Homo sapiens: one gene and its partners. The protein of the gene in region 2 purifies or fractionates together with the protein of the main gene of each other region. This does not show direct contact. Each region holds a gene or a part of one and is shown on either strand. Other genes may lie near its edges.

What was found.
Region 1: the proteins of DNAJA4 (region 2) and TUBB6 purify together in Homo sapiens (affinity purification with mass spectrometry; 2 studies listed by BioGRID and IntAct, with this or other methods). This does not show direct contact.
Region 3: the proteins of DNAJA4 (region 2) and ENDOG purify together in Homo sapiens (affinity purification with mass spectrometry; 2 studies listed by BioGRID and IntAct, with this or other methods). This does not show direct contact.
Region 4: the proteins of DNAJA4 (region 2) and GRPEL1 purify together in Homo sapiens (affinity purification with mass spectrometry; 2 studies listed by BioGRID, with this or other methods). This does not show direct contact.

The regions. Positions count from the first base shown.
Region 1 is NC_000018.10:12,303,907-12,311,252, reverse strand, and holds the start of TUBB6 (tubulin beta-6 chain), read right to left. Parts: upstream 3,013-7,346; 5' UTR 2,961-3,012; coding exon 2,904-2,960; intron 2,567-2,903; coding exon 2,458-2,566; intron 311-2,457; coding exon 200-310; intron 1-199. UniProt on the Homo sapiens protein: Tubulin is the major constituent of microtubules, a cylinder consisting of laterally associated linear protofilaments composed of alpha- and beta-tubulin heterodimers.
Region 2 is NC_000015.10:78,267,549-78,274,576, forward strand, and holds part of DNAJA4 (dnaJ homolog subfamily A member 4), read left to right. Parts: exon of another isoform or gene 1-2,387; intron 2,388-2,948; coding exon 2,949-3,129; intron 3,130-5,546; coding exon 5,547-5,651; intron 5,652-6,109; exon of another isoform or gene 6,110-6,648; coding exon 6,649-6,876; exon of another isoform or gene 6,877-7,028.
Region 3 is NC_000009.12:128,813,992-128,821,527, reverse strand, and holds the start of ENDOG (endonuclease G, mitochondrial precursor), read right to left. Parts: upstream 3,029-7,536; 5' UTR 2,844-3,028; coding exon 2,343-2,843; intron 1,878-2,342; exon of another isoform or gene 790-1,877; coding exon 680-789; exon of another isoform or gene 1-679. UniProt on the Homo sapiens protein: Endonuclease that preferentially catalyzes the cleavage of double-stranded 5-hydroxymethylcytosine (5hmC)-modified DNA.
Region 4 is NC_000004.12:7,065,065-7,072,434, forward strand, and holds the start of GRPEL1 (grpE protein homolog 1, mitochondrial precursor), read right to left. Parts: upstream 3,001-7,370; 5' UTR 2,969-3,000; coding exon 2,907-2,968; intron 1,563-2,906; exon of another isoform or gene 1,116-1,562; intron 124-1,115; exon of another isoform or gene 1-123. UniProt on the Homo sapiens protein: Essential component of the PAM complex, a complex required for the translocation of transit peptide-containing proteins from the inner membrane into the mitochondrial matrix in an ATP-dependent manner.

The DNA of each region.
Region 1 (7,346 bases), on a different chromosome or scaffold from region 2:
CTTCCCACCAAAAAAGTCAAGATTTAAAAAAAACTGTTCCTTGTGATGAACCCAGCTAGGGATGGGAGGGGTGGGGCTGGGAACCACTGATTTCCATTCACACTTTTTCTATGACACATGATGCTTTAAATCTGGCATATAAAATATTTGATTTAAAAAAATAAAAGAAGAAGAAGAAAGTGAGAAAGATGGAACCTACCAAAGATGAAGTTGTCAGGCCGGAAAAGCTGCCCAAAAGGCCCAGACCGCACGCTGTCCATGGTGCCTGGCTCTAAGTCCACCAGGGCGGCCCTGGGCACATATTTCTGAGCTGGAGGAGAAAAGAACCACCCACAAGAGTTACTTTCAGGTTTCTAAAGTAATTGACTTCCCCGTTTCAAGTCCCACCAGTTCTAGCTGCCTGGAATGGATCAACCAGGGTCTTTTCAGAAAGGGTACAGGAACTTTCTTAGAATCACAGAATTGGCTGGGCGCACTGGCTCATCCCTGTAATCTCAGCACATTGGGAGGCTGAGGTGGGCAGATCGCTTGAGCCCAGGAGTTCAAGACCAGCCTGGGCAACAGAGCAAAACCCTGTTTCTAAAAACAAACAAACAAAAAACCAAGAAAATTAGCTAAGTGTGGTAGTGTGCACCTCTAGTCCTAGCTACTCTGGAAGCTGAGGTGGCAGGATCATCTGAACCCAGGAGGTCAAGACTGCAGTGAGCCATGGTTATGCCACTGTACTCCAGAGTGAGACCTTGTCTTTTTTTTTTTTTTTTTGCGATGGAGTCTCGCTCTGTTGCCCAGGCTGGAATGCAGTGGTGTGATCTCGGCTCACTGCAAGCTCCGCCTCCTGGGTTCATGCCATTCTCCTGCCTCAGCCTCCCAAGTAGCTGGGACCACAGGTGCCCACCACCACGCCCGGCTAATTTTTTTTGTATTTTCAGTAGAGATGGGGTTTCACCGTGTTAGCCAGGATGGTCTCGATCTCCTGACCTTGTGATCTGCCCACCTCGGCCTCCCAAAGTGCTGGGATTACAGGGGTGAGCCACCGTGCCTGGCCGAAACCCTGTCTCTTAAAAAAAAGAAAGAAAAAAAATCCTAGAACCTTAACACTGGAATGAGGAACGAGTCCAGGCATGACCTGGCAGAGGAGGTTCCAGGAAGAGGCAGGATGAGAAATCAAGTCCCCTGACTTCCTGCCTACTGTATTTTCCAGCTCACCCTGACACCTCTTTCCTGTTAGGAAGTTTTACAACTTTAGCTCCATGGAAATAAACTAGGTATTTACAGCAAATTGCCAGGTTTGGATGAAATTCTCTGCTTTGTGACACCTCCCCCATGCATACACATACATGTGCCCATGTGCAGTCTGAGAACCTTGTTACCCGGAGCACGCCACTGGCTGTTTCCCCAGAGTCACTCTCATTTTGAGTCAGAGTGTTCTTGTGTGGAAATTTCATGCCAATTGGGCTAGAACTTGTTCCCGGTGAGGACACGGTTAATATGATTCCAGATAGGACCTGCTCTTCAACTCCTGTCCTGCAGTGCACTCGCCAAGATCGAAAATGGATGTACCCAAGCTGGGTGAGGGATTAACATGAAGTGCAGTGTATACTGGAACTATCCTTAGTGTCCTCTAGAAATTTCATCTTCCATGCCCTGATGTTCCCAGCCTTTTGTCATTGCTGCGTAAATGAATAAAACTCCACTCGTTGCTGAGAACTGCCTGGAGTTTCAGCTTCCAGGGAGGTTAAAGTCTTTTTAGAGGTCTGCAAGGGACCAGAAAAGTCACTTAAGAGAGCGTTTCTCAAATTTTTAGCCAAGAATCCCCAATAAGAGATACGTTTTAAACTGGGGGGGGGGGGGGGGAAGCTTTGTTTTTCCCAAGGATCCTTGAGAAACGCTCTAATTTATTCTAACAGGGTCTCGCTCTGTCACCCAGGCTGGAGTGCAGTGGCGCGATCACAGCTCACTGCAGCCTCGACCTCCTGAGCTCAAGCCCTCAGTTAACTGGTACTACAGGGGTGGGCCACCAAGCCCGGCTAATTTTAAAATTGTTGTAGAGATCGGGGCGGGAGGGGGGCGGGGGGTGGTCTCCTATGCTGCCCAGGCTGGTCCTGAACTCCTGGCCCCAAATGATCCTCCAGTCTCGGCCTCCCAAAGCGCTGGGATTAGAGGCTTGAGCCACCGCGCCCGGCTAGACAGAGAAGGCTGGGCAGGAACCGCTACGTTGATTTCACAACGCTAACGGGTGGTCCCGTTCAAGCGCTCAGACCCTCAGGATAGGCTGAATCGAGCTGTTTGAATAAACTGACGGCGGATTTCCCGCCCCGGAGGAGCGAAGGGAGTGGCCGGGCATCCTGCTACACCCCGAGAGAACTTTTCCCGAAGCAAACTCGCCGCGCTAAGAGGCGGCGCCGGAGCGTCCACGCGGGTCCCGGCCGGGCAGGGCGCGGCGGCCTTGCTACTCACACGATGACTCATTGTAGTAGACGTTGATTCTCTCCAGCTGCAGCGCCGAGTCTCCCACGTAGCCTCCGGCCGGGTCGATGCCGTGCTCATCGCTGATCACTTCCCAAAACTTGGGCAGGGCAAGGCGGGGGGACAGACGCTCAGAACCCAGAGCCCGGGACGCCGCCACCCGCGCCCACCCCAGGCGCCCCGGCGGCCGAATTCCAGGCGCGCCTGAGCCGCCGGCAGCCGCTCCCAGTTGGGATGGGGGTGGGGAGCGAAGAGTAGAAGGTCCCCGGCCGGCCACGCCCCGGGCGCTCCCTCCCTGCGGCCCTCGCGGGTCCGCACCGGGCTCCGAGGACCCAGGGGCGCACAGCGGGTGCGCGCCCCGGCGGGGGTCGCGCCGGGAGACCCGGGGCCCGCCAGCAGCCGACCCGCGGAGAGGCCCTGCACCGCGCCAGGCCCACCTTGGTGCCGATCTGGTTCCCGCACTGGCCCGCCTGGATGTGCACGATCTCCCTCATGGCGGGCGCGGCTCTGCGCTAGGAACTGGCTCTGCGGACGACAGCGGCAACTGCGGGCCGGCTGCGCGCGTCCCGGGGCCGACCCTCCGCGCCCCCGCCCCCGCCCCGCCGCTCGCCAATGGCTGCGGGCCCCGCCCCGCCGCCCCCGCTCGACGCCGCGGCCCGGCCTGCAGCAGCCGAGGGAGGACGCGCGGGCGCCAGTCGGGGGACCCTTGCCGGGAGCCGGGCGGAAAAGGACGGGCCCGGAGCTGGCGGGGAGGAGACGGGAAGGAGCGCGGCGCCCGCCCCCACCACCGTTTCGCTGCCCCTTGTGGTGCCCCGCCAGAGGGAGACGCGAGTCGGGCCCTGGCGTCGGGGCAGCGGAGCCGACGTGGCCCGCGGGGTCCCAGCGCCGCGCCCGGGAGCATTGCAGCCGCCCGCGCCCAGTCCAGCCAAGCCGGGACACTGCCCTGGGGTTCGGCGGTGGAGCTTTTCAGGGTCTCTGCCCCCTGCCCCCCACCCCCCGGTCGCACCCCGGGCACACGTTCTTAGGGCCTCTTCGTCCTGGTGTTTCCGTCTCCGGAGATACAGAGGCCATTCCTCTCCGACGACTCCCACCCCTTTGGAACCGGGTTTAGCTAAAGTGACTACAGGGCTGGATCCGAAAATGAACACCTCCTGCGCCGGGTCTATGCAGCCTACTCCTCGCGCGTTAGCGAAGAAATGCGCTTCGGCCTGGGAGGGCGCGCCAGAGTCCGTCTTCCTGGCCAGTTTTGTGTGGTGGAAAGGAATGACTGCTGATGCCGGCCGGGTGACTTGGATTTTAATTCTAGCTGTTTTCAGTTAGCTCTGCGCTTCAGCGGACTCCTCTGTTAACGGAAAAGGTTATCCTAGGGGAGCCTTTCAGCCTCCAAAATGCGGGATGCTCTGGCCTCTGCAGTCAGAATGTGCATGCATCAGGGCTTTTGCGGAAGTTTCCTCACGTGAACGCTGCAGGCTGGGACCACCGGGGTAGCCTCTGCGTCCCCTCCCAGGCCCGTAGAAACGCCGCACATGAGGAAGCGACGATGTTCTGTAATTTGCACTGGCACTTTCTTTTTAGACAGATGAAAACTTTGGGAAATTCCTAATTGTGTGTGTGCATGTTTGTACGTTTGGAAGGGAGTGGAGAACTTTTAAAAGTTTTTCTTCTGGAGTTTTGCAAATGTTTCCAAATTGAGGAATTTTTTTTTTTAACCCTTGGGTCCCCGCCTCCCCACTGCTCTCTCCACCCCAGTGCTGCTCCTCGGCCTTCTTGTGGGTCCCCACACCTCTTTACACAGCCACACGCCCAGGGAGCAGATGAGGAGGCCACAGCCCAGCCCCTGCGCTCCCATTTCAAACTATGAGCCTGAGATTAATCAGCCACCTTCTCCTGAGTCCTCAACACCCTTATTTAGGCTGTTTGTTTCCATTGCTTAATTATTGACTCCAACGAGTGCTACCTTAACCCATCCTGCCGGCCCGAAGTCTAGTGTGGGGAGCCCGAGAGCGGAGGGCCTGTGCCATCCCTGGAAGAACCCTTCCTCCAGCTTTAGTCTCTCTCTCTAAGAAATCCAGCCATCAAGTGGTTTAAAAGAAAGTGTCTACTTTAGAAGCTTTGGTCGTTTGCTGAAATAGCCACCCTTTCAGTGCTAGCCCTTGGGCTGGAATTTAAGTCCAGGGGTCTGATCGAGCCAGAAAGTAGGTGTCAGCGTGGCTTCCGGAAGTCCGTTGTCACTTGGATTTGACAAGGGACAAGCCGACCTGCTGGTTTCTGGGCTCCTGCTCGCTGTGCGCTCTGCGCTGTCTGCAGGGATTGGTGCCCGCGGAGTGCGCTTTGTCTGGAGAAACTCAGTGCTCGAAGAGTGAGGAGACCGGGAGGAAACCTTCCCCCTGCAAAGCTTATCTCCCTTCCCTCTCATCAGAGGCGGGGCCCCGCAAGACACAAGGGATTTCCCCGCAGAATGAACCAAGGCCTCCCCAGGACATGGGGACAGTTCTGCTGTGCAAAGCCTGAATTCACGTTTCTTTCCTAAAGTGGCTCCCAGTCTCTCTGCAGCCTTGGCCTCTCTTTGAATCCCAACCCTGACTTCCCTGGTGTCTGTTGGCCACTCCCTTCTGGGAGCCGGCAGGTGAAACCCTGACCTGTGAGCCCGGCCTGGGGCTCTCCAGGCTCTGGGCCCCCTACCCTCCCGATCTGTGGCCCTCACTCCTCCTGGGCGAGGCTGTTTGTGACGCGGTGTGTCCAAATGCACACAAGCCGCAAACCAAACTTAAAAAAGCGTAGAGGACACATTCTCTTCTCCTACCTTAAAAAATACACCATGGTATCTGGAAAGCCAGGTTCCAGTTTAGAATTCTCAGGCTAGGCCGGGCACAGTGGTTCACGCCTGTAATCCCAAAACTTCCAAAGCTGACATGGCAGGATTGCTTGAGCCCAGGACCTCGAGACCAGCCTGGGCATTATAGTGAGACCCTTGTCTCTACAAAAAGTTAAAAAATTAGCCAGGCATGGTGGTACATGCCTGTACCCAGCTACTCCAGAGTCTGAGGTGGGAGGATTGATTGCTTGAACCTGGGAGGTGGAGGTTGCTGTGAGCTGTGATCATGTCACTGCACTCCAGCCAGGGTGACAGAGTGAGACCGCGTCTCAATAAAAATAAAATAAAATAAAATAAAAAAGAAATCGGTAGACTTCTTGGGCTCCTCGTTGATTTGCATCAGGGCGTGGAAGTGCGGGGGCTGGTCTCAGCCTGCAGTCCTCACTTTCAACACCCGCCTTTCTCCCCACCTCCAATTCTGTCCCACGCCGAGATGGGTCTCCAGTACATGCCTGTGGACACTTCAGTCCTCAGCCACTCACAGCCATCCCAGGCCACCCTGCGGGAAGAAGGGGCCCTAGGAGTAGGTTTGGGGAGGTCTGGGCAGGGACTCCTGAGGTCCGGGGGGCTGAGGTGCCATCTAGGAGCTGTGGGCTCATCCCAGTGGCCCTGTAGGGAGGGGGCAGGCAAGGACAAGGCCCCTCACCTGGGTCGAAGGCAGTGATGGCGTTCATGACTTGGTGCTCTGGGCGAGCCACATTACCCGTGCACTCCTGTCTGCTCACTTTCCTCCTCCTCTTGCCCGTCTCTTCTGTGCCTTAGATCACAGTCTTGCTTCTCTGAACGCCTCCTTCTGTTTCATGCATGTGTAGAGAGGATTCCGGGCTCACTGCCCAGATTTGAATGCTGGTGTTTACACACACCTGGACCGTAGGAGATGGCTGATGAGTGTTTCTTCCTCTCTCGCCCTTTTCTGGGCTGCACCAAGGAATAAGACAGGAGGGTCTCGTCCTCCCCAAATGCTGAGAAGTCCCTGGGGAAGGGGACCCGGAGGGGCCAATGGGGCTCTTGAACTAGGCTGGTAATGGCCGTGAGTGGTGTTATTTTCAACTAAACCCCCAAATCTGGAAAAATGAATGACATCAGACCCTGGTGTTTTTATGTGACGTTCCTCTTGGTAGATAAAATATGGAGTTTCTCCAGAAAGAAGTGGATATTTCACCTGCCAACTGTGCAGGGAGAGGCAGAGGCCGGGACAAGAAGTGGAGAGTGGGAGGGTGCCATGGGGAGGCTGGGAAGGCTGGGGTGCCCCAGTGTTGACTCTCTCTAGGCCCTGGGAGTTGCCACGTGGACTTCAAGGACTGGAACACACTTCCTGCTCCCCACTGCCTCGCTGGGGAAGGGAACCTGCGGCTCCCAGCAGCAAGCCAGGCAAGCAGGCATCAGTTCTGAGTTAGGCTGAGAATAAGCTCTCCTGCTATCTGGCGCCTTCAGTGAAGCGTTGTCAGAATTTACTCTCTGCAGGTTCTCCCGGAAAGAGCAGCCATGGTCCTCCTGATCTGGTGAGTGGGCACAGGGGCCAGTATCGATGGGCGGATGAATGTAACCATGATCCATGGTGTTCTTAGGTCAGTCGGCCTGAGCAGTCTTGGTTACAAATGGGGGAGTCAAAGTTTATAAAGGCGGCCCGGGGATCTGCTAAACACTAGACTGTGTTTGCGCAGTCAAGTTAAATGTATTCTCTTGGGTTCTAATTCTTTTGCAAAATAATATTTCGTGCTTGCTTTGGCAGCAGTATACTAGAAGTGGAATGATACAGAGAAGATTAACGTGGCCCTGCACAAAGATGACATGCAAATTCATGAAGCGTTTCATATTTATTTATTTATTTATTTTGAGACACAGTTTCACTCTGTCGCTCAGGCTGGAGTGCAGTGGTGCAATCTTGGCTCATTGAAACCTCCGCCTCCCGGGTTCAAGTGATTCTCTTGCCTCAGCCTCCCGAATAGCTGGAATTACAGGCGCACATCACCACACCCAGCTAATTTTTGTATTATTAGTAGAG
Region 2 (7,028 bases):
GATGTGGGGTATATTCTTGGCTATTACCCTGTTGAGATGAGTTTGGTCTTTTGGTCAATTTCATTGTAACTTTTAGTTTGAATAATAGACTTTCAAGTTCAAAAATCAGAACATAGCAAACCATGCAGAAAATTTTAGAACACAGAGGGAAACCTACCAAGTACACATTATCCTAACCACTCTGTGCTTCTTTCCAAGCTTTCCCCAGTATGATCATACATGGCCATCCTGATACATAGACATTTTGTTTTCTTGTTTCCACTTAATATTTTATTATAAGTACTTTTCCCAAGTTGTTACGTAGTCTTCAAAGCCATTTTCCCCTCAGCTGTATAGTAATCCTGTTAAGGTTCTGTGGCAAATGATCATGGTCTGAAAGGCAAGCTCATCATAGCACTCGTCTCCCACTGGGAGAAGGGGGTCCGGGCCGGGAGCTGAATTAGACTTTGGAGTGCTGGGACCCTAGAGGATGGACTCCCTACTGGTAGTTGGAACCCCCATCCCATGTGAGATCTGGCCTCTGACTGAATGTCCCAAGCAACTGGGTACTCCTTTTCCATTCTTAGATCATTCTATTAAGTCTAAATGACATGTGAGTATCCAGGGTATTTGGTGAGTGTTTCCGGTGGACGTTCCCATGAAGTTATTTACCTAGTCCTGACCTGCAGATAGACGCAGAAACTGTCTAGGGGCAGCCTGGCCTAGTTGCTTTCTGATCTGTACCAGGCACCCAATCCTTACACTCTACCTCATGTTTTCTGCTGAGGAAAGGGATAGTAGTGAATGGTACTTACTTCTTCGCAGAAATGGTATGAGAATTAACATATCAAAAGATCTAGCTGCCTTATATATGATGCTGATGTCTTTTTAAGACTTTTCTAAATTGTAGTTTTTTAGCTATTTATTAGCTATTATTATTGGTTACTTATTAGATTTCAATCAGGGATCTGTAGAACAAGGGAATTAATGCCTCAAATTCCCTTGTTCTCTCTCTCAAATTCCTTATTTCATGGCACTTTTTTTCCCTGAATATTTTTTGGAGCCAGCTGCATTATAGGATCTGTTTATCTATATATCCATATTTGTCTCTCCGACTAAACTGTAGCCTCTGGAGGGCCAAGATCCTACCTCATTTATTTATTTCTGAGTTCCCAGAATCGAGCCATTCATCTAACAGGTATTTACCAAGTGCCTTCTACATGCCAGGCATGGTTCCAGGCTCAGTTAGACAGCAGTGGACAAAACCCCCCATCTTCATGGAGCTTATGTTGCAGTGGGGGCTACAGCATAAGCAGTAGATGATGCAGCTTGTTAGAAGGTGGTTCATGATATGGAGAAATATGCAGCAGTTGTGGGGGCTGGGAGGGTCTGAGGTGGGTTTGCAGTGTTAAAGCTGGATCACCAGGAGGCATCCCTGAGAAGGTGGTCTGTGAGCTAAGGCTGGAAAGAGATGAGTCGGGAGGCCGCACCAGGCTGAGGTGCCTCTGAGGCCCAGACTGCAGAGTTGAGGAACAGCAGGGAGCCTGCTGAAACTGGCATAGAATTGGGGTGGGGACACACAGGAGGAGAGGAAAGTACAGGTGCCAAGTTGGGCTTATAGATGAAAGTTAGGACTGGCTTTTACTCCCAGTGACGTGGGCCACCTTGTAGAGGTTTGAGCAGAGGATCGACCCAATTAGTGGGCTCGAGTGGAGAACACACTGAAAGCTGGGGTGAGGAGGGCACATGGAAGACCACGGAGGAGGCCACTGCAGTGGTCCAGGCCTGAGATGGTGCCTTCAGCCAGAGTGGATGTGGTGTGGTAAGAAGGAACAGATCTTGCATGTTTTCGCATTCTGATTTTATTTTAAAAATGTCCATATACCTGCAGAAAACATGAGTGATACAATGAACACCTATGTATTCTTCACCTAGCTTTACCAGTTATAAATAAGTTGTCACATTTGTTTTATCTATTATTATTATTACTGTTGGCTAAAGATTTTGGGAGGAAGCTACCTATAGCATAACCTTTCAGCCCTAAGTGCTGCGTGTTTCTCTTGGGCACAAGGACATCCTTGTACATAACCATAGTAAAGTTATCAAATTCAAGAAGTTTAACATTGGGAACAAAGATTCACATTTCTCCCATTGTTCCAATAATGTCCTTTGTAGCCATTTTTTTTTTTCTCCCCTGTGCAGGATCTGATCCAGGATCACACATTGTATTCGTTTTTTTCTATCTTTTAATTTTAGAGTATCTCTCAATTTGGGTTTTCTGATTCTTTTCGTACAATTGGGTTCCAGTGGTAACTTTTTGGCAGGAATGCTACACATGGGATATTGTGTCTGTCTTAGGGTACTGGAGATGCAAATGTGAAGGTAGCATCAGTGGGATTTGTTGACAGGTGAGATTGGCATTGCCAATAACTGTGATATGGGGAAGACTATGGGTGGGGCGGGGCTTTTGGGGGAGGATCAGGAGTATAGGTTTGTATCCAATGTCTGGCACGTGGTTAGATGCTCACAGATGCCTGTAGTTGAATTTCATTCTAGTAAACTAGTGAAATGATTCCCATGAGGAGGTGAGCCAGTGGTAATGCCCAGAGTCCTGGCTCTATCTGGTTAGAGGTTCACCCCTGGCACTGTCTCATGGTATCCTAGCTGGTCTCGACTTCCTGTCTGGTGCAGCCGGATTAGTGAGAAACTTTCCCTCTCTACTGGCTTCTCTCCCTTATTCTTATCGTGTCCCTACCACCAGTCCCTTAATATGTTTGCCCTGTGTTTCCCACTTTACCAAAGGAGTAGGTAGACAGGCAAGTCAGATTCCAGGTAGAGGATGTATAGACTGGCTAGTTCAAGGGTTTGGGGGCAGAATACCTCTATTACTTTGTATGTTTATATGGCAGGTTTGCTTAACAAAACAACTGAAACTTCTCTAAAAATCTCTCTCTCTCTCTCTTTTAAAGTTTAAACTCATATCCCAGGCATATGAAGTGCTTTCAGATCCAAAGAAAAGGGATGTTTATGACCAAGGCGGAGAGCAGGCAATTAAAGAAGGAGGCTCAGGCAGCCCCAGCTTCTCTTCACCCATGGACATCTTTGACATGTTCTTTGGTGGTGGTGGACGGATGGCTAGAGAGAGAAGAGGTAAATGCTTTTAAAGAAACATAAATAAGTTGTATGGTTTCCACAATTATACGTGTTGTTGGAATCAGGATAGATCATGCTTTAAAAGGATATGATTGGGCCAGGCGCGGTGGTTCATGTCTGTAATTTCAGCACTTTGGGAGGCCAAGGTGGGAGAATTGTTTTAGGCCAGGATTTCAAGACCAACCGGGGCAACATAGTGATACTCCCCATCTCAAAAAAAATAAAAATAAAAAACTTAGCCAGGCATGGTGACTCATGCCTGTAGTCTCCGCTACTTCTTGAGATGCTGAGGCTGGAGGAAAACTTGAGCCCAGGAAGTCGAGGCTGCAGTGAGCTCTCCAGCCTGCACGGCAGGGTGAGACCCTGTCTCAAACAAACAAACAAACAAACAAAAAACCCCACCAGGTACAATTGCCATGTTTTGAGATCATTAACTTTAAAGAGTTTATCACTTGTCTAGTGCTCAGGCTACCTGGAAACTCTTGGTAAATTTAGTAATTATCTGACACCCTCCAATACCATATGAAGTAGCGAATGGAGTGGTGGATAGAAAAGAGGAAGGTGAAGTTCATCGTGCCTTCTTTTCCTCTGTTGTTGGGGTCAGGCACCAGAGTGTGCTGAGGGATGTAGATGACGCCGCCTGTGGTTGTCAGTGATCCTTTACCGAGAGTGTTCCTCTCTCCTCTTGCCCACCCTCCCTTTGTGGCCCTCCATGTTCCCTGACCTGGGCGTGGGCTGCAGGCTCTCTAATTCTAGGTGGGTACTCTTGCCATGTTCAGTATGGCCTCATTTCCCAGCCTGCTCAGGGGATTTTCTAGGCAACAAAATTCATCTCTTTATGTTTTGAAATCTTTATAAATGACCTGCCTTTCTTTTCAGAATGCATTATGAGTAGTAGCAACTTCATCCCCAGGAGGTGAATGAGGAACTTCTTAGCCCTTAGCTCAATGGCCCCAGGCCACTGTTTTGACTTTCTCGGGATTTGTTCTTCCTAATTTTTCTGCATCTCACCTCTGCCAGGCTACGGGCTGTCACCTCTGTTGTTAGTAGTTGCTAATAGACTAGTTCCCATTCCCCCTGTTTAGTTTACTGTTGTCAGGCTGCTTTGGATCTTGAAACCAGAAAGATAACCAAGCGTATTACAATTCTGGATAAAGTCAGAAGAAATGAGCTCTGCCTTGGGGTTTAAGAAGTGTGGCTTTGGTCAGTGAGAGGCCCCTAGATAAATGAAGCTGCACTTGTTATCACATTGTAATTGACTTTGAGCTTGAAAAAGCTTGGGTGTCAATTCTGTGAACATAGAGTGCTGAAAATCACAAAGTGTTTATTAGGGAAAAATCCTTCCTCTGTCCTTTGAGCATATCGCCTGCTCCTATAATTGATGGTGTGGACATGATAAAACCTTGGGTACTTTGGGAGGCCGAGGTGGGTGGATCACGAGGTCAGGAGATCGAGACCATCCTGGCTAACATGGTGAAACCCCGTCTCTACTAAAAAATACAAAAACTTAGGTGGGCGCGGTGGCAGGCGCCTGTAGTCCCAGCTACTCGGGAGGCTGAGGCAGGAGAATGGCGTGAACCCAGGAGGCGGAGCTTGCAGTGAGCCAAGATCGCACCACTGCACTCCAGCCTGGGGACAGAGCAAGACTCTGTCTCAAAAACAAAACAAAACAAAAAAAACCTTGGGTATTCTCTTGTCCAGCTCCCTCACTGTCTTGAGATGAAAAACTTCATGCCCTTAATTAAGTCATCTCTCAAAGTTGGCAGCCAGTAAACCAGGACAGCTCATCTCAGTGACTGCAGGAGCTCCACGGGCAGCAGGGAGGGTCTTGATGCTGTCAGTCTTGACAGGCTGGCAGGTGCTGGAGCACACCCCCACCCTGTGGACTGAACACCCACTGTCCTGAGTTGCAGAAGCAAGATTTTGGCAGAGGAAAGAATTCCCATTTGGCCACCGGTTACAGAAGGGCTCAGAAAGTAAAGTGCTTTATGCCCAAGGAAGTGAAAGATCCAGAGACTTTGGCTGCCAAACATTTATGTATAGAAAGGACTCCTTTCATGGGGAAACTTAACCAATTTCGTGGGTTAATACTGCCTTTGGTTTCTCAATTAGTACTCTCCTTGTCCTCAGATTTGTTCTCAGAAAATAAAGGTGGAAAGTCTTTTTGTTGGCCTCTATAAATGATTGAATAATTAGCTCATAGCTAGAGAGGGTATTAGCTCTTGTTATTGGCTGAGGGCCAGAAGGATGGGCTGGGGTAATAGAAGCATTGCTTCCTGCAGGGAAGGGAGCGCATGACCCAGCCACAGTCTTGAGTCTCTGGAGACTTCATACAACTAAGGGTCATATGGGTGGTATTTAATACAATGGTATATTTCATTCAACGCCACTAATTTTTTTTCTCCCTTGCTAAGGCAAGAATGTTGTACACCAGTTATCTGTAACTCTTGAAGATCTATATAATGGAGTCACGAAGAAATTGGCCCTCCAGAAAAATGTAATTTGTGAGAAATGTGAAGGTAAAAATTAATTTTTGACTGAACCGCACAGTTCTGATCCCTTAGATTCAGAAACAATGCTTGTTTTATAGTTCAGGGAAAATAAGTTATCTTTTTTCAAATGCAAGGGTCAAGCAGAGATTACAAACAGGTGGCCTGAGGGCCACACTTCTTTGCCTGAATGAATGTTTTCTTTGGGCTGCACCTCTATTTGACATGTTGACAATTATTTCTTTTTATGTTTTTGTATTTTTTATTTTTATTATACTCTAAGTTTTAGGGTGCATGTGCACAACGTGCAGGTTTGTTACATATGTATACAGACAATTATTTTTAAAAATTAAAAATCAGACACTTGACCTCATCTAGGGGTTGGCAGACTTTTTCTGTAAAGAGCCAGATTTTAGGCTTTCCAGGCCATGGAGTCTTTTGTAGCTAGTTCACTCTGCCGTCATAGTACATAAATGAATGGACATGCCTATGTTCCAGTAAAGCTTTATTTACAAAACCAAGCAGTCTGGCCATGGTTTCTTGACCCCTGACTTAAATGTATATATAATTATTGTAATTTTTAAAAAACCTGAGTTTTCAAGAAAAGCCATGTCTGGTGACCCCAGCCTCACATTGTCCCACAGAGAGAATTGGCTGAGCTGGGTAGCTGCCACTATTGACAGAGCTTGTGTTGTCTAGATCGCCACAGCCCCAGCCTCCTCATTCATCTGTGGGCCTATGCGAGTTCCACCTGGGGTGGAAGAAAACACATTTGATGAAGCTAAAGTAATAAATTTGGATTGGTGCAGCCAAAATCACAAACGTTTGAGGTCAGATGTTAACATCTGGATGTTGTCTGCTTGGCTGGACTCCTCCAGACTCTTCTGCATTGTTTTTTATTATTGTAAATAGAATTCTAAGCCCATTGTCCAATGTGAGGGTTCCCTACCCTTCTGCCATGGCGCCCAGCAGGGACACTGGTAAGGGAAGAGCATGGCCCTCATTCCTGCCTCCCCTGACCCTGCAGGTGTTGGTGGGAAGAAGGGATCGGTGGAGAAGTGCCCGCTGTGCAAGGGGCGGGGGATGCAGATCCACATCCAGCAGATCGGGCCGGGCATGGTACAGCAGATCCAGACCGTGTGCATCGAGTGCAAGGGCCAGGGTGAGCGCATCAACCCCAAGGACCGCTGCGAGAGCTGCAGCGGGGCCAAGGTGATCCGTGAGAAGAAGATTATCGAGGTACATGTTGAAAAAGGTGAGGCTGCGCAGAGCTGGTGCTCCACACGGGCTGGAAATGCTGTCTGGGTGCTAATCGTGAGATACACAGACTAGATGTCAGGGAAGTGAGCTGTATCACAACATGTATTGGGTGTGCCATGAATTCCTCTTGTTTCCCAGTCTTCTCTT
Region 3 (7,536 bases), on a different chromosome or scaffold from region 2:
AGATCTAGATTCAAACTCCCGAGAAGGGTGGAGGGAAGTGCTCCAAGCAGAGCAGAGACTGAAGGCGGGAGAGCCTGGTGCACCGCGGACCTGCAGGGGGAAGGCATGAGAGCTCGGTGCACTGGGGACCTGCATGGGGAAGGCGGGAGAGCTCGGTGCACTGGGGACCTGCATGGGGAAGGCGTGAGAGCTCGGTGCACTGGGGACCTGCATGGGGAAGGCGGGAGAGCTCGGTGCACCTCGGACCTGCAGAGGGAAGGTGGGAGAGCTTGGTGCACCGCAGACCTGCAGGGGGAAGGCGGGAGAGCTTGGTGCACTGCAGACCTGCGGGGGGAAGGTGGGAGAGCTTGGTGCACTGCAGACCTGCGGGGGGTTCCATATTGGCAGAACAAGATTGGGTGGGCATGCCAAGAGGTGACAGCAGGGAGAAGCGGGGGCAGATTCAGGGCCTGCTGCTGCCCATGGGCAGAGGAGAGATGGTCAGGGGTACCCGACAGGTCTTTGGCTGTGGAGGTGGAATGAGGGGACTCGAGGCAGGGAAGCTGACAGGCTTGCCAAGAAACCAGATGAGTAGGGAACTGGTATTGACCCAGAGCCTGGGGCAAGCCTGGCCCTGTGAGTGGCAGTAGGGGCCTCAGGTGAGTGGGAGGTTCTGCCGCCCCCCTGGTTTCCACCTTACCTGGGCAGGAAGAGTGGCCCTGTGCAGACATAGACGTTTTGGTAGCTGCGGGTCAAGCTGCGGCTATATTTCTCCAGGTTGTTCCAGGCATTCTGGTTGAGGTGGGGCACCTGGTAGGAGAGATAGGGCTTAGCAGGACTGTGGCTGGGACCCTTCCTCCTCTATCAGAGGGCCGCCCCAGGTCCTGAGGGGATGGACAGGCTCAGAGATATCCAGTGAGACAAGCGGGGGGAAACTGAGGCTCAAGGAATGAAAGTCACTCCCTGAAACCCAGGGCTGATAGAGTGCTAGCCACCACCCTCTGTCCCTCCCACAGCCCAGGTGTCAAAGTCTTTTCTCAGCTCCCAAGAGTCGAATGAAGGAAGAGCCTGTCTCCACCTTTCAGAGAGGACTGAGGCCTGTCCCCAGCCCCACCCAGGGTCTCCTGGGAAGACCAGCCCTTCCAACTACCAACCCGTTCCTTTTCCCAGTCTGAGCCACAGGAAGAGCCTAGCGGGGAATGCCATGAATCGACCTCCATCCTGAGCTCTCCAGGCCTGGGACAATGGAAAGTGGATAGGGGGCTGTCTTCCCAGAAGGAAGCTGGGTCAGAGGTTGGTGCCCCATGGGCTCCACCCAGAGCCCCATGGCAGTCTCCATCCATTGGTGCCAGGACCTGCTGGGAACAGGCTGAGAGGGTGGTTGGCCCAGTGCACAGTGCCTGGCACTAACAACCTGATCGTGGGCCAGGTGTCTGCCTCGAAACTGCCTGAAGGCAGGCAGGGTAGGACAATGTCTGGAGGCTCACGGTTTTATAGACTAGGGGTCCCCAACCCCTGGGCTACAGACCGGTACCAGAACCGGGCCACACAGCAGGAGGTGAGCAGCAGGCGAGCAAGGGAAGCTTCATCTGTATTTACAGCCACCCCCCCATTGATCCCACAGCAGCCTGAGCTCCGCCTCCTGTCAGATCAGTGGCGGCTGGAGATTGTCATAGGAGCTGGAACCCTATGGTGAACTGCGCATGTGAGGAGGTTGCGCGCTTCTTTTGAAAACCTAATGCCTGATCTGTCGTTGTTGCCCATCACCTCCAGATAGGACTGTCTAGTTGCAGGAAAACAAGCTCAGGGCTCCCACGGATCCTACATTACTGTGAGTTGTATATTTCACTATATGTTACAATGTAATAATAATAGAAATAAAATGTACATAAATGTAACGCACTTGAATTATCCTGAAACCCGCCCTCACCCACCAAGCCGTGGAAAAACTGTCTTCCACGAAACCGCACCCTGGTGCCCAATAGGTTGGGCGCTGCGGTTCTACAACAGACAGCCTTCTTCTGCTGTGTGACACTGTGCCCGTCACTTTGCCTCTGTGAGCCTCAGCGCCTCATCACTACCGCAGGAGGAAGGTGAATAACGGTATTATCCCCATTTTTTTGACGAGGAAAGCGACGCTCAGGGAGGTGCCCAGGGTTCGCAGTTGAAGCTCAAGCCCTGGTCGGCCTGCAGACCCTGTGCCTGGAGCCCAGTGCTCCTCCCTCCCGCCACGGGATGTCACTGCGATGCCTGACCGGGGGCGCGTTGGGCAGCTGCCCCGTTCTGCAGAAGAACAAACCGAGGCCCCGCGAGGCCAGGCGCCGGCCCCGCATTCCGCGACCGGCCCGGGGCGCGGGCGCTACCTGGGGCGCGACGTTGCTCAGGTAGAACGTGTCGTCCATGGCCTTCTGGCTCCAGCGGTGGTTGGCGGCGGCGGCCAGGTGACCGCGGTCGAAGCCACTGCCGCGGTAGTCGGCGTTGGTGGCACGGTGGTACGCGTGCACCGAGTCGTCCTCGCGGAAGTCGCACTCGCGCCGGTCGCCGTCGCCGCGGAGACGCTCGGGTCGCAGCTGCTCCACCACCCAGAGCGCGCCGCGGGTGCGCGGGTCGTAGCACAGCACGTACGACTCGCGGCTCTTGAGCTGCGCCAGCCCCGGCAGCCCGTACTTGGCCAGCTCGCCCGGGCCGCGGGGTCCCCCGGGCACAGGGGGCAACTCGGCTGCCGCCGCCACGGGCAGCACGGGCAGCCGGCCCAGCAGTCCCGGCGCCGCCCGCGCGTCCTCCCGCCGCCGCCGCCAGCCCTCGACGACCGCACCCAGCCCCGCGCCCGACGCCAGGGTCAGGCCGGCCCGCAGCGCCCGCATGGCCGGGGAGCGACCTAGCGGCGGGCGACCCGCGAGGCTCTTAAAGGAGCCGCGTCGCGGGATCCAACGAGGGCACAGGGCTGCTGGGGCCGCGGACGATAGCGTGACCTCCCTTCCACTCACAAACACTGCCAAGGGCTTGGGCCTCGGAACCCAGAAGGGAGCAGCAGAGCCCAACCGGGTGTCCCCGGCGTCCTTTCTTTGCGCATTTAAGACGCCGGTATGAGGGGCGTGGCATCGTCGCCTCAGCTCGCGATTGGCCACCATCAGGCCTGGCTCCGCACCCGCCTCGCAGGCCCCCTGCTGGTCGTGGGGTGGGAGACACTCTCTCCTCTGCGCCTGCGCAGGGAGCTCCTGCTTAATACGCTCCGCGGAAGGGTCAAGCACTGTCGAAAGCTTTTACTGTCACTGCTTAGTCTCACCCTCTACACCGCTCGGAGAGTGAGCTCCTAGTTCGCAGAGCAGGCACAGGGCCCCAGGTATATCTGGCCCTAGGCTATCCTCCATGACACCATAAAATAAGCCCCGCAATTCTACCAGATTGGCAAAGGTTTCTTTTTTTTTTTTTTTTTTTTTGAGACGGAGTTTCGCTCTGGTCGCCCAGACTCGAGTGCAATGGCGTGATCTCGGCTCACTGCAACCTCCGCCTCACAGGTTCAAGCGATTCTCCTGCTTCAGCCTCCCAAGTAGCTGGGATTACAGGCATGCGCCACCACGCCCGGCTAATTTTGTATCTTTAGTAGAGACAGGGTTTCTCCATGTTGGTCAGGCTGGTCTCAAACTCCCGACCTCAGGCGATCCGCCGGCCTCGGCCTCCCAAAGTGTTGGCATTACAGGCGTGAGCCACCGCGCCCGGCCCAGATTGGCAAAGATTTTAATTAACAGCAGTTTGAGGACAAGGATGCAGACGGCTGATGCTGGCTGCTGGCTGGAACAGAAACCTGGGGCGAATATTCCAAAAAACAGCTTGACAGTACAGTACAAGCGAAGCCTTAAAAAGGTTCATACCGTTCAACCCACGCAGAGGGCTGAGCTGGGGAAATCTCGGGAATGCAAGGATCTCGAACGCAAATATTCACCAGAGTATTACACTGCCGGCAGGAATAAGCAAAATATTCAGAAATATGGACTGGTTAAGGACTTTTATTTTTTGAGACGGAGTCTCACTCTATTGCCCAGGCTGGAGTGCAATGGCGTGATCTCCGCGCAGTGGAACCTCTGCCTCCCAGGTTCAAGTGATTCTCCTGCCTCAGCCTCTGAAGTAGCTGGGATTACAGGCGCGCACCACCAGGCCCAGCTAATTTTTTTTTTTTTTTGAGACGGAGTCTCGCTCTGTCGCCCAGGCTCACTGCAACCTCCGCCTCCTTGGTTCAAGCGATTCTCGTGCCTCGGCCTCCTGAGTAGCTGGGACTACAGGCGCGCGCCACCACGCCCAGCTAATTTTTGTACTTTTAGTAAAGAATGGGTTTCACCATGTTGGCCAGGCTGGTCTCGAACTAACTCCTGACCTTGTGATCCACCCACCTTGGCCTCCCAAAGTGCTGGGGTTATAGACATGGGCCACCCAACCCAGCCACTCTTAGCATTTTTTTTTCCTTTAAGGAAAATAAGGTCTTGTGCTGTCACCCACACGGAGTGCAGTGGCAAGATCACAGTTCACTGCAGCCTTGACCTCCTGGGCTCAAGCCATCCTCCTGCCTCACCCTCCCGAGTAGCTAGGACCACAGACACATATCATGATGCCTGGCTAACTTTTAAATTTTTTATAGAGATGGGGCCTCGCTATGTTGTCCAGGCTGGTCTTGAACTCCTGGCCTCCAGTGATCCTCCTGCCTTGGCCTCCCAAAGTTACAGGCATGAGCCACTAAGCCCTCCTGAGGTCAGTAGTTTGAGACCAGCCTGGCCAACATGGCGAAACCCTGTCTCTACTAAAAATACAAAAATTAGCTGGGCATAGTGGACCGTGCCTGTAATCCCACCTACTGGGGGACTGAGGCAAGAGGATTGCTTGAACCTGGAGGGCGGAGGTTGCAGTGAGCCGAGATCATGCCACTGCACTCCAGCCTGGGCAACAGAGTGAGACTCTGCTTCAAAAAAAAATATGGGACAGGGTCTTGCTTTGTTGCCCAGGCTGTTCTTGACCTCCTGGGATCAAGTGATCTGTGGGCCTCAGCCTCCTGAGTAAATGGGACTACAGGCTATGGTGTATCACCATACCCAGCTACTTTCAGCAATTTTGAAATATACATTAACTATAGTGACCATGCTGTAGTTTGTGTTTTTTTTTTTTGGAGACAGAGTTTTGCTCTTGTTGCCCAGGCTGGGGTGCAATGGCGTGATCTCGGCTCACCACAACCTCTGCCTCCCAGGTTCAAGTGATTCTCCTGCCTCAGCCTCCCGAGTAGCTGGGATTACAGGCATGTGTCACCATCCCCAGCTAATTTTTTGTATTTTTAGTAGAGACAGGGTTTCTCCATGCTGGTCAGGCTGGTCTCGAACTCCCGACCTCAGATGATCCACCCACCTCAGTCTCCCAAAGTGCTGGGATTACAGGTGTGAGCCATCGCACCTGGCCATACCATGCTATAGTTCTAAAAAAAAAACATTCCTGGGCCGGGTATGGTGGCTTAGGCCTGTAATCATAGCCCTTTTGGAGGCCAAGGTGGGAGGATTGCTTGAACCAAGGAGTTCAAGACCAGCCTGGGCAACATAGTAAGACCCCCGTCTCAAATTAAAAAAAAAAAAATCCTCCTGTCTAGCTGAAACTGTACCCTTTGACCAACATTTCCCCATTCCCCACCGCCCCAACTCCCACCAATCCCCAGACTCTGGTACCATCATTCTACTCTCCACCTCTATGAGTTGTTTTACATTCCGAATATAAGTGAAACCATGTCGTGTTTGTCTTTCTGTGCCTGGCTTATTTCACCTACCGTAACGTCCTCTAGGTTCTTCCATGTTGTCACAAATGACAGAATCTCCTTTTTTTTTTGAGGGTGAATCTCGCACTGTTGCCTGGGCTGGAGTGCAATGGCACAATCTTGGCTCACTGCAACCTCCCCCTCCCAGGTTGACGCAATTCTCTTGCCTCAGCCTCCTGAGTAGCTGGGATTACAGGTGCACACCACCACGCTCGGCTAATTTTGTTGTATTTTTAGTAGAGATGGGGTTTCACTATGTTGGCCAGACTGGTCTTGAACTCCTGACCTCGTGATCCACCTGCCTCAGCCTCCCAAAGTGCTGGGATTACAGGCGTTAGCCACCACGCCCGGCCTTGTCTTTTTTTTATAAGCCATTCTGACAGGTGTGAGGTGGTATCTCATTTTGGTTTTAATTTGCATTTCCCAGATGATCCATGCATTGTTCAGCATTTTTTCAGATAGTTGCCAGAAATTTTTATGTCTTTTTTTATTTTTTTTTGAGACAGAGTCTGGCTCTGTCACCAGGCTGGAGTGCAGTGGCTCGATCTCGGCTCACTGCAACCTCCGCCTCCTGGGTTCAAGCACACACCACTATGCCCATCTAATTTTTGTATTTTTAGTAGAGACGGGGTTTCACCATGTTGGCCAGGATGGTCTTGATCTCTTCACCTGGCGATTCGCCTGCCTCAGCCTCCCAAAGTGCTGTATGTCTTCTTTTGAGAAATATCTATTCAGGTCCTTTGCGTGTTGTTTAAATCACATTGTTTTCTTGCTATTGAGATTTTTGTTTGTTTCTGTTTTTGTTTTTTAGACAGAGTCCTGCTCTGTCACCCAGGCTGGAGTGCAGTGGCACGATCTCGGCTCACTGCAACCTCCGCCTCTGGGTTCAAGTGATTCTTGTGCCTCAGCCTCCTGGGTAGCTGGGATTACAGGCACCCACCACCACTCCTGGCTAATATTTTTGTAGTTTTAGTAGAGACTGGGTTTCACCATATTGGCCAGGCTGGTCTTGAACTCCGGACCTCAGGTGATCCACCCGCCTCCGCCTCCCAAAGTGCTTGAATTACAGGCATGAGCCACCATGCCCAGCTGCTACTGAGATGTTTTAAGTACTTATATATCTTGGATATTAACCCCTTATCAGATGTATGGTTTGCAAATATAATCATGCATCACATAAAGATATGTAATCCAAGCTACCCTGGGATGCTGAGGCATGAGAATTCCTTGTACCCCGGAGGCTGAGGTTGCAGTGAGCTGAGATCGTGCCACTGCACTCCAGCCTGGGCGACAGAGCGAGACTCTATCTCAAAAAAAAAAACAAACCAAAAAAAGTATGCCAGGCTAGGTGGCTCACACCTGTAATCCCAGCACTTTGGGAGGCCGAGGCAGGTGGATCACAATGTCAGGAGTTCAAGACCAGCCTGGCCAACACGGTGAAACACTGTGTATACTAAAAATACAAAAATTAGCCGGGTGTGGTGGCACACACCTGTATTCCCAGCTACTGGGGAGGCTGAGGCAGGAGAATTGCTTGAACCCGGGAGGCAGAGGTTGCAGTGAGCCGAGGTAGTGTCACTGCACTCAAGCCTGGGTGACAGAGAGAAACTCTTGTCTCAAAAAAAAAAGTAATAATAATAAAAAATAAAGAATGATACACCTGTCTGTATAAAGCGCTTACCATGAATGGAGCTTCTGGGACAGGAAGTTGCTCTGCGTGGGTCACTGAGGAGTGAATGTGAAGGCCCAGAACAAAGTCTACTCTACGCTAC
Region 4 (7,370 bases), on a different chromosome or scaffold from region 2:
TGACTGAGACAGTCTGCCCAGACCTAACCACGTACTTATGGAATAGCTACTACTAGAGTGAGGCTGGCCTACTGCTGATCCTGATGACAAAGATAGACCCAGCAGAGATCTTGCAAAAAAAAGGTATCTAAACACAAAGAACAGTAATTTGTGATTTAAAAGTGATTAAGACAGGTTCGCTGGCTCACGCCAGTAATCCCAGCACTTAGGGAGGCCAAAGCAGGTGGATCACTTGAGATCAGGAGTTCGGGACCAGCCTGACCAACATGGAGAAACCCCGTCTCTTCTAAAAATACAAAATTAGCCTGGCGTGGTGGTGCATGCCTGTAATCCCAGCTACTTGGGAGGCTGAGGCAGGAAAATCGCTTGAATCAGGGAGGCGCAGGTTGAGGTGAGCTGAGATCGCGCCACTGCACTCCAGCCTGGGCGACAAGAGGGAAACTCTGTCTCAAAAAAAAAAAAAAGTGATTAAAAAAAAAAAGGGAACTAAGTGCTTTGTGCTTTGGGAGGCTCAGAGTAGAAGGAGATACCTAGCTTGGGGAATGGAAAACCATGAAAGGCTTTGTAGGATAGGTAAGAGTTACGAAAAAGGGATCAGAGGTGGGACAATGGGATAGATGCAGCTTCAGGAAGATGAAACTGCTTGGACAAAGGCATGAAGACAGGAAAGCATGGGATATGTACCGGTGAAATAGACCAAGACCAAGTGATAAGCCCAGGTCACAAAGCCATCAACGAATGATAAAATAAAGTCTTAAAACCTAGATTTCTTCACCAGGACCAGAGGACCTCTTTTTTTTTTTTTTTGAGACGGAGTCTTGCTCTGTCACCCAGGCTGGAGTGCAGTGGTGCCATCTCGGCTCACTGCAAGCTCCGCCGCCCGGGTTCACGCCATTCTCCTGCCTCAGCCTGCCGAGTAGCTGGGACTATAGGCGTCCACCAACACGCTCGGCTAATTTTTTTGTATTTTTTTAGTAGAGACGGGGTTTCACTGTGTTAGCCAGGATGGTCTAGGATCTCCTGACCTCGTGATCCGCCCGCACCCGGCCAGGACCTCTTTTTAAATTAGGCCACAGTCCTATCTGAGAATAAGCTACATTCAATTTTCTTCCCAGATTAAAACTGCTTCAACGAATAGGAAGGTGAAGGCTGCCAGCACACAGAACTCAGTCAAGGCTGTTTATTGCAGCACTGCGAGCGACAAGTTGGAAACAATGTTTGTCAGCGAGCAAATGGTTGAATAAACTTGCTAACACAATCTGGAATATTATGCAGCTCCTAAAAATGAGTTAAACTGCCATTTATTGGATACACTTTGGATGTTCTGTTAAGAAATGCAACTTACAGAGAAATACACAAAACAGGATCCTATTTTTGTAAAGACAAACTAGAAATCCTGTGTACTTATTAATATCTTAGATCTGTGGAAAGAAGTGGAGTGGAAGCCTCCATTACAGTCTTGCCATGGGGGTGGAGAGCGATGACCATTTTATATTTTTACTCTTGTGAATTTAAAAAGCTAAGAATTTAAATAAAAACTGAGTGTACTGTTGTGAAGCCCACCTTCCTCTCCAGTTGTTCTGCCTGGGGGTGTGACAGCCACCAGCCTTTCTGCAGGTCAGCTCTTCACAGACCCCTTTCCGAAGCACAGCCAACACAAAGTGTGGCCAGGAATGTGCAACAGGACCCACACCCGGGGCCATCTCGTTCTGCAGAGGGAAACTGAGTCTCAGAAAGCCTAGTTACTCTGAGAGCTATGACTACCAGTCAGTTCTCCTGCCTTTCCCTAGTTGAGCATCTTTCCACAAAACTACCATTCTAGAGACAGAAATGATGCTGACTTGGTGGTCACTTTCCTGGCAATTAATTCCAATACAAAACCACCAATTACTTGACCAAAGTCTTTTTACTCAAGTATTCCACGTGGGTCGTTGCTCTTGGCTCCTGTGTTGTTAAGATATAATTTATTAAGCTAGCACTTACCCCTTAATCACCTAGACTGAAAGTGATCTTCACCTCACCTGCCTGCTCTCCTTCAGGAAAGAACTACATCTCACTGCCCAGCTTTTGGCCAATTTGGCCCTCAGTGGCTTCTCTAATCAATAACTTGGTTCTAGGCACTTCCTCCAGCAAGTACTTGCCATACTAACTTCTAAAGTAGAACTTTCAAAAAGCAGAAGGGGCAGATTTGAGGGGAAAAAAAAAAAGGGGCACTGTCTCGTGGCCCTCAGGCCCGAAATGTGCCCTTGTCTAAACAAACTCTTCGCCCAGCAGCAGCACAGGTTCGACTGCTCTTTTGACCTCAGACGCTGGAGAAGGCGGAGTGAAGGAATTCGAGGTCGAGTGGAAAAAGCCCGTGAACGGGCAACACGCACCTTGCGACACGAAGTTTCCCGAGCACCGCTGTGGCCCCGGCCTCGAGCTGCGGCACGGAAATGAGTAACCACAGCTCCTGCCCAGGGCACACCCGGCCCGGCTCGGCCTCGCTGCGTGACCTTGGACAAAGCTCGAGCTTCTTTGGTCGCTTCTTCAACCGCACAAGTTGCGGCTGCCTCTGCGCCCGTGAGCGCCGAGACCGTGAATGCGCGCGAGGCGTCGCCGCAGGCCCTGGACCACACGCGCACGTGGGCCACCGTACCTTCCGAGCCAAACGCCCCCCGCGCTGCGGTCCTCTCCTCCTGACACGGCGCCCGCCCGCTCCACGCTTCCCAAGCCCTGAGCTGGCAGCCTGGCAGCAGAGCAGGCCCCAGCGGGGCGGTCCGCGTCCCGCGGCGGGGAACCGCGAGCCCGGAGATGCCCAGCTCCGGGGCCGAGGCCGGGAAGGAGGCCCCGGGGCCGGGAAAGGCCCCCATCGGAGCGGGAGGTCGCGCTGCCACCTCCACCCAGGGAGACCAAGTGCCCCTTACCTGAGAGACAACGCCAAAGCAGGAAGACTGCGCCGCGCCAACCTCACGCACTGAGCCGCCATGACTGCCACTGCCCGTCGCAGTCGCCGCGCACGCACCAAGCGTGCGTGCAGGCAGCTATACCCACTTTTCTGCCCTACTACTTCGCCTCAGCCAATCCGTAATCGCTTTTCCTGTTATGGACAGGCAATAGTCACCAATAATTGTGGGTCACGGAAGAGCATCTTTCCCCACCCCCCGGTGGGCGGGGCCTGAGGCGTACCGGAGGCCCTGAAGAGGTGAAAGGTGAAGTGAGCATTGGGAGGAGCCTCCTGTGGGCGTGGCGATGCCGGGAGGAGCCAATGAGGAGGCAGCGTGAGGGGGCGGGGCCAGCGCCGGGGTGGGGCGCGCGCGTCGCGGGCCGGGAGGGACTTCAGAGCCTGGTTTTGGGTAGGAGTGAGGCGGCAGCTTGTCGTTTCCCGGCCCGCACCCGCCCTTGCGCTGACACCGCGGGCCTTCCTTTGCTCTGGGAACGAGCGTGGGGAGCCCTGTTCACCCTCACACCCCGGCTCCAGAGCGGCGCGGAGCACTCCATGTTTGCTAAATGAAAATGAAGTCTCGGCGCGAGCGCCACCCAAACGGCGGCGTAGTTGCTTGAGAACCGCGGAGGCAACCGCTTGGGAGGGCGCCCCGACCCCGAAGCTGCTTCTCCAGGCGCCCGAGGCGGAGAGAAGGCACTGGGGTCTCCGTCTCCACCAGTGATTTCTGGTGAAACAGGAAACAAAACCCGGGAAACAAATGGGACGAAATGTTGGCGGTTTTGATGCTGGATGATGGGAATATGGGCGTGTGTTTTGTACCTTTCTGTTATCTTCAGTTTTCTCAAAACACGAAAAACAGACTAAGAACAGCGCATAGAAAACATTGGGGCACAACTAAAGCTCATAAATGCACACGTTTTCATAACCTGACCGAGGTCCATGCTGCTGTAGCGCATACCCCCAAGAACAGAGGGCCGCGTGTTCTTATGGCCCCGGTGCCGGCCCCCAAGCGGGGTTCCCGCAGGAGATAGGGCCTGGCTCCCGCTTCAGCACCGCGTGGCCTGGAGTGCAGTTCTGGCGGCCAAGATCTGAGGGCTGTAGCCCGTGCCCTCACCAGGATCCCAGACTTAGAGTCCCTGCCCTCCCCGGGATCCCAGGGCTCGATCCTGTGCCCTCCCCGGGATCCCAGGGCTGGAGCCCATGCCCTCCCCAGGATCCCAGGGCGCGAGCTGGTGGCTTCTCAAGCGGAGTTTTGCCTGCTTGTTACATTAGTGAATGTAGGACCACTTGAGTAAAGGACCAAACCTTTATTCTTTTGCTTTTCTGCCATTGAAACCATTCAACCCATGCTGATTAATACCTACTGTTTGCCAGGTAATATGCCCCTTGCAGAAAGACGCAAACAGCTAAACCCCAAATGGGATGTTGTACAGGACAAATGACCGTGTCAATTAATACCAATAATTAAGATAATAGTATAATTATGATGATAATATAATTAATTCGAGCCTGGAGGAAACAAAAGAAAGTGGAACTGAACTATTAGAGAATAAATGAGCTTAAAAGACGTCATTGAATGGAATGTGTGGAACTTACTTGGATCATGATAGAATAAACTAGCTTAAACGGGGCATTTGAGAGATAGGTGGGGGAAATTGGAATATAAAGCTGGGTATTAGATGAAAACTGGGAGTATCGATACTTTTGGTAGGGAGCAGTAACGGCTGGTGGGTAAAATGTCCTAACCTTTAGAGATGCAAACGGAAGTATTTACAGCAAATTGCCCCTATGTCTGGTATTCGCTTTGTAAATTCTCCATGAAAAAAAATTCAAGGACAGGTGAAACACAAGTGGCAAATGTTAGTAACGGTTGAAGCTGGGTGATGAATGCCATAGGAGTTATGACGATTTTCTTTTGCATATGTTTGTAGTTTTCTGCGATAAAATTTATTTTATTTTATATATATATTTTGAGACAGAGTCTCATTCTGTTGCCCAGGCTGGAGTGCAGTGGCGCGATCTCAGCTCACTGCAAACTCTGCCTCCCGGTTCAAGCGATTCTCATGCCTCAGCCTCCCTAGTAGCTGGTATTAGAGGTGTGTGCCACCATGCTTGGCTAATTTTTCGTCTTTTTAGTAGAGACGGGGTTTCACCATGTTACCCAGGCTGGTCTCGAACTGCTGAGTTCAAGCAGTCCGGCCTCCTCAGCCTCCCAAAGTGCTAGGATTAGAGGCGTGAGCCACCACACCCAGCCTTTCTGCAATAAAATTTAAAAGTGTCTCGGCCGGGCACAGTGGCTCATGCCTGTAATCCCAGCACTTTGGGAGGCCGAGGCGGGTCGATCATCTGAGGTCAGGAATTCGAGACCAGCCTGGCCAACATGGTGAAAACCCGTCTGTACTAAAAAAATACAAAAAAAGAAAAAAATTACCTGGGCATGGTGGCGGGCACCTGTAATCCCAGCTACTCGGGAGGCTGAGGCAGGAGAATCGCTTGAACCCGGGAGGCAGAGGTTGCAGTGAGCCGAGATGGTACCACTGCACTCCAGCCTGGGCAATAGGGCAAGACTCCGTCTCAAAAAACAAACAAAAACAAAACAAAACAAAACAAAACAGTATCTCATGTTTCTTATTGGCTGTGACCAAGTAACTTCATTGCTTTCAACCTTGGATCTGCTCACCTGTAGAACTGAGACATTATTTGTTGTGAGATTTAAAAAAGAAACATGTTCATTTCCTTCCTTTGGGGCTCGGAAGGAATCAGATGGGCGTCTTGCAGCTCCGATCCTGATGAAGAATTGTAGCTGCTGTGCCTCAAGACAGATAAGCACAGGTCGTCCCAGAGGGGATGCCACCTTGGGGACTGTGAACCTCCGCTGAGGCCAGGCCATGCCCTGCCCTGTGTCTGTATCTGGAACTGCGGGATTTCTCTGATCTGCCAGGGAAAGGCCTGCCACCTCGTGGCCACTTCAGGAACTGCTCCAAAGGCAGTCTGCTCTTGGGAACCTACCTGGTCAGGTAGCTCCTTGAGGTCTGGAACTGCACCACAGTGCAAGTTATCTTCACGTGGAGGTGAAGCTGCCTGTATGGAAGACTCTTGGATCAGTCGTCTGAGCACATGTCCAGCAATGGGCATGGGTGGGCTAGCCAGGGACTGGGGGTGCCGGAAGAGCCGACTGTACAGCACGTGGTGCCCCTAACAAGGATTGAGTGGTGTTTTTAAAAAGAAAAAAAGGTCGTGCAGATGGTCTGACAGTCTGTCGACCGTGGGCGCGGTGCTCATAGCAGCTGAGCACTGCCGGGGTACCAGGCTGTGTGCTGGGTGCTTCAAAGATGTCCTCTTGTGGATCAGCCCATCTGTGGCGAGGAGGGGACCGGGCTCAGCCAGGTTAGGTGACTTGCACAAGGTCATGTGGGTGAAAGGAAGGCAGAACTCTTGTGTATTTCTCCTGACCCCAGATTCTGCGTCAAGGCTGAAGCCAGAACCCACACGTGTCCAGCGCAGGGTGATTGCTGCCATGAGCTGCATTGCTGTGATCCTCTGGCGAGGGCGTGGATTTTCATCCTTTTATTCAATTTTGAAAGAAGCAAATTTAGAAAGATACGATATGATGGGTGTGGCAGACAGAATTCTAAAGGTGGGCCCACTGATTCGTACCCCTGGCTGTTCAGTTAAACACTAGCCTAGGTGCTGCTGTGCAGGGACTTTGACGAAGGAATGAAAGTCCCAAGCCATCTGACCTTGAGATCAGAGATTATCTGGTGGGCTTGACCTCATGAGCCTAATGAAAGCAGGGAGCTTTTCCAGCTGTCAGCAGAAAAGAAGGTCAAATTCAATGTGTGAGAAAGGCTGGAATTAACATTGCTGGTTTGAAGGAGGAAGGGGTTGTGTGAGAAGGTGTGTGAGTGACTTATAGGAGCAGAGAGTGGCCCCCAGCCATGGAATGAGGACCCCAGGTCTGCAGGCACCAGGAGCTGGACTTTCAGGGCCACCTGAATGCACCCAGAAGCGGATTCTCCTCCAGAGCCTCCAGGTAAGAGTTCATTCCAGCCACCACCTTGATTTAGACCTTGTAAGACCTGGAGTGCAGAACCCAGTTTAATTCACTTCAGCCATATAATAACCCTGTGGGGCAGGCATTACTTTTTTTCTCCCCATTTTATCTTTATTTTGGACTTTGGTAGTCAAGTTTATTTATCATAAACCTTTGGTTCCCATTCTCACCCTTGTGCCTGCCTTATTCTTGGTCTGCTTCTGTTTGTTTAGTTGCTATAATCAACATCCCTGGACCCATCGCGCAGAAGAAACTAAGGTTCCCAGGTTAAGAGACTTGCCTGGAAAAGGGTTAACTGACAGCTTGGCAGCAGAGCCACCGCTCCTTCCCCCTTGCATGCTGGTTCCAAACCGAAAATGATGTTCTGGGTAAGAAAAAACAGCAGCATAA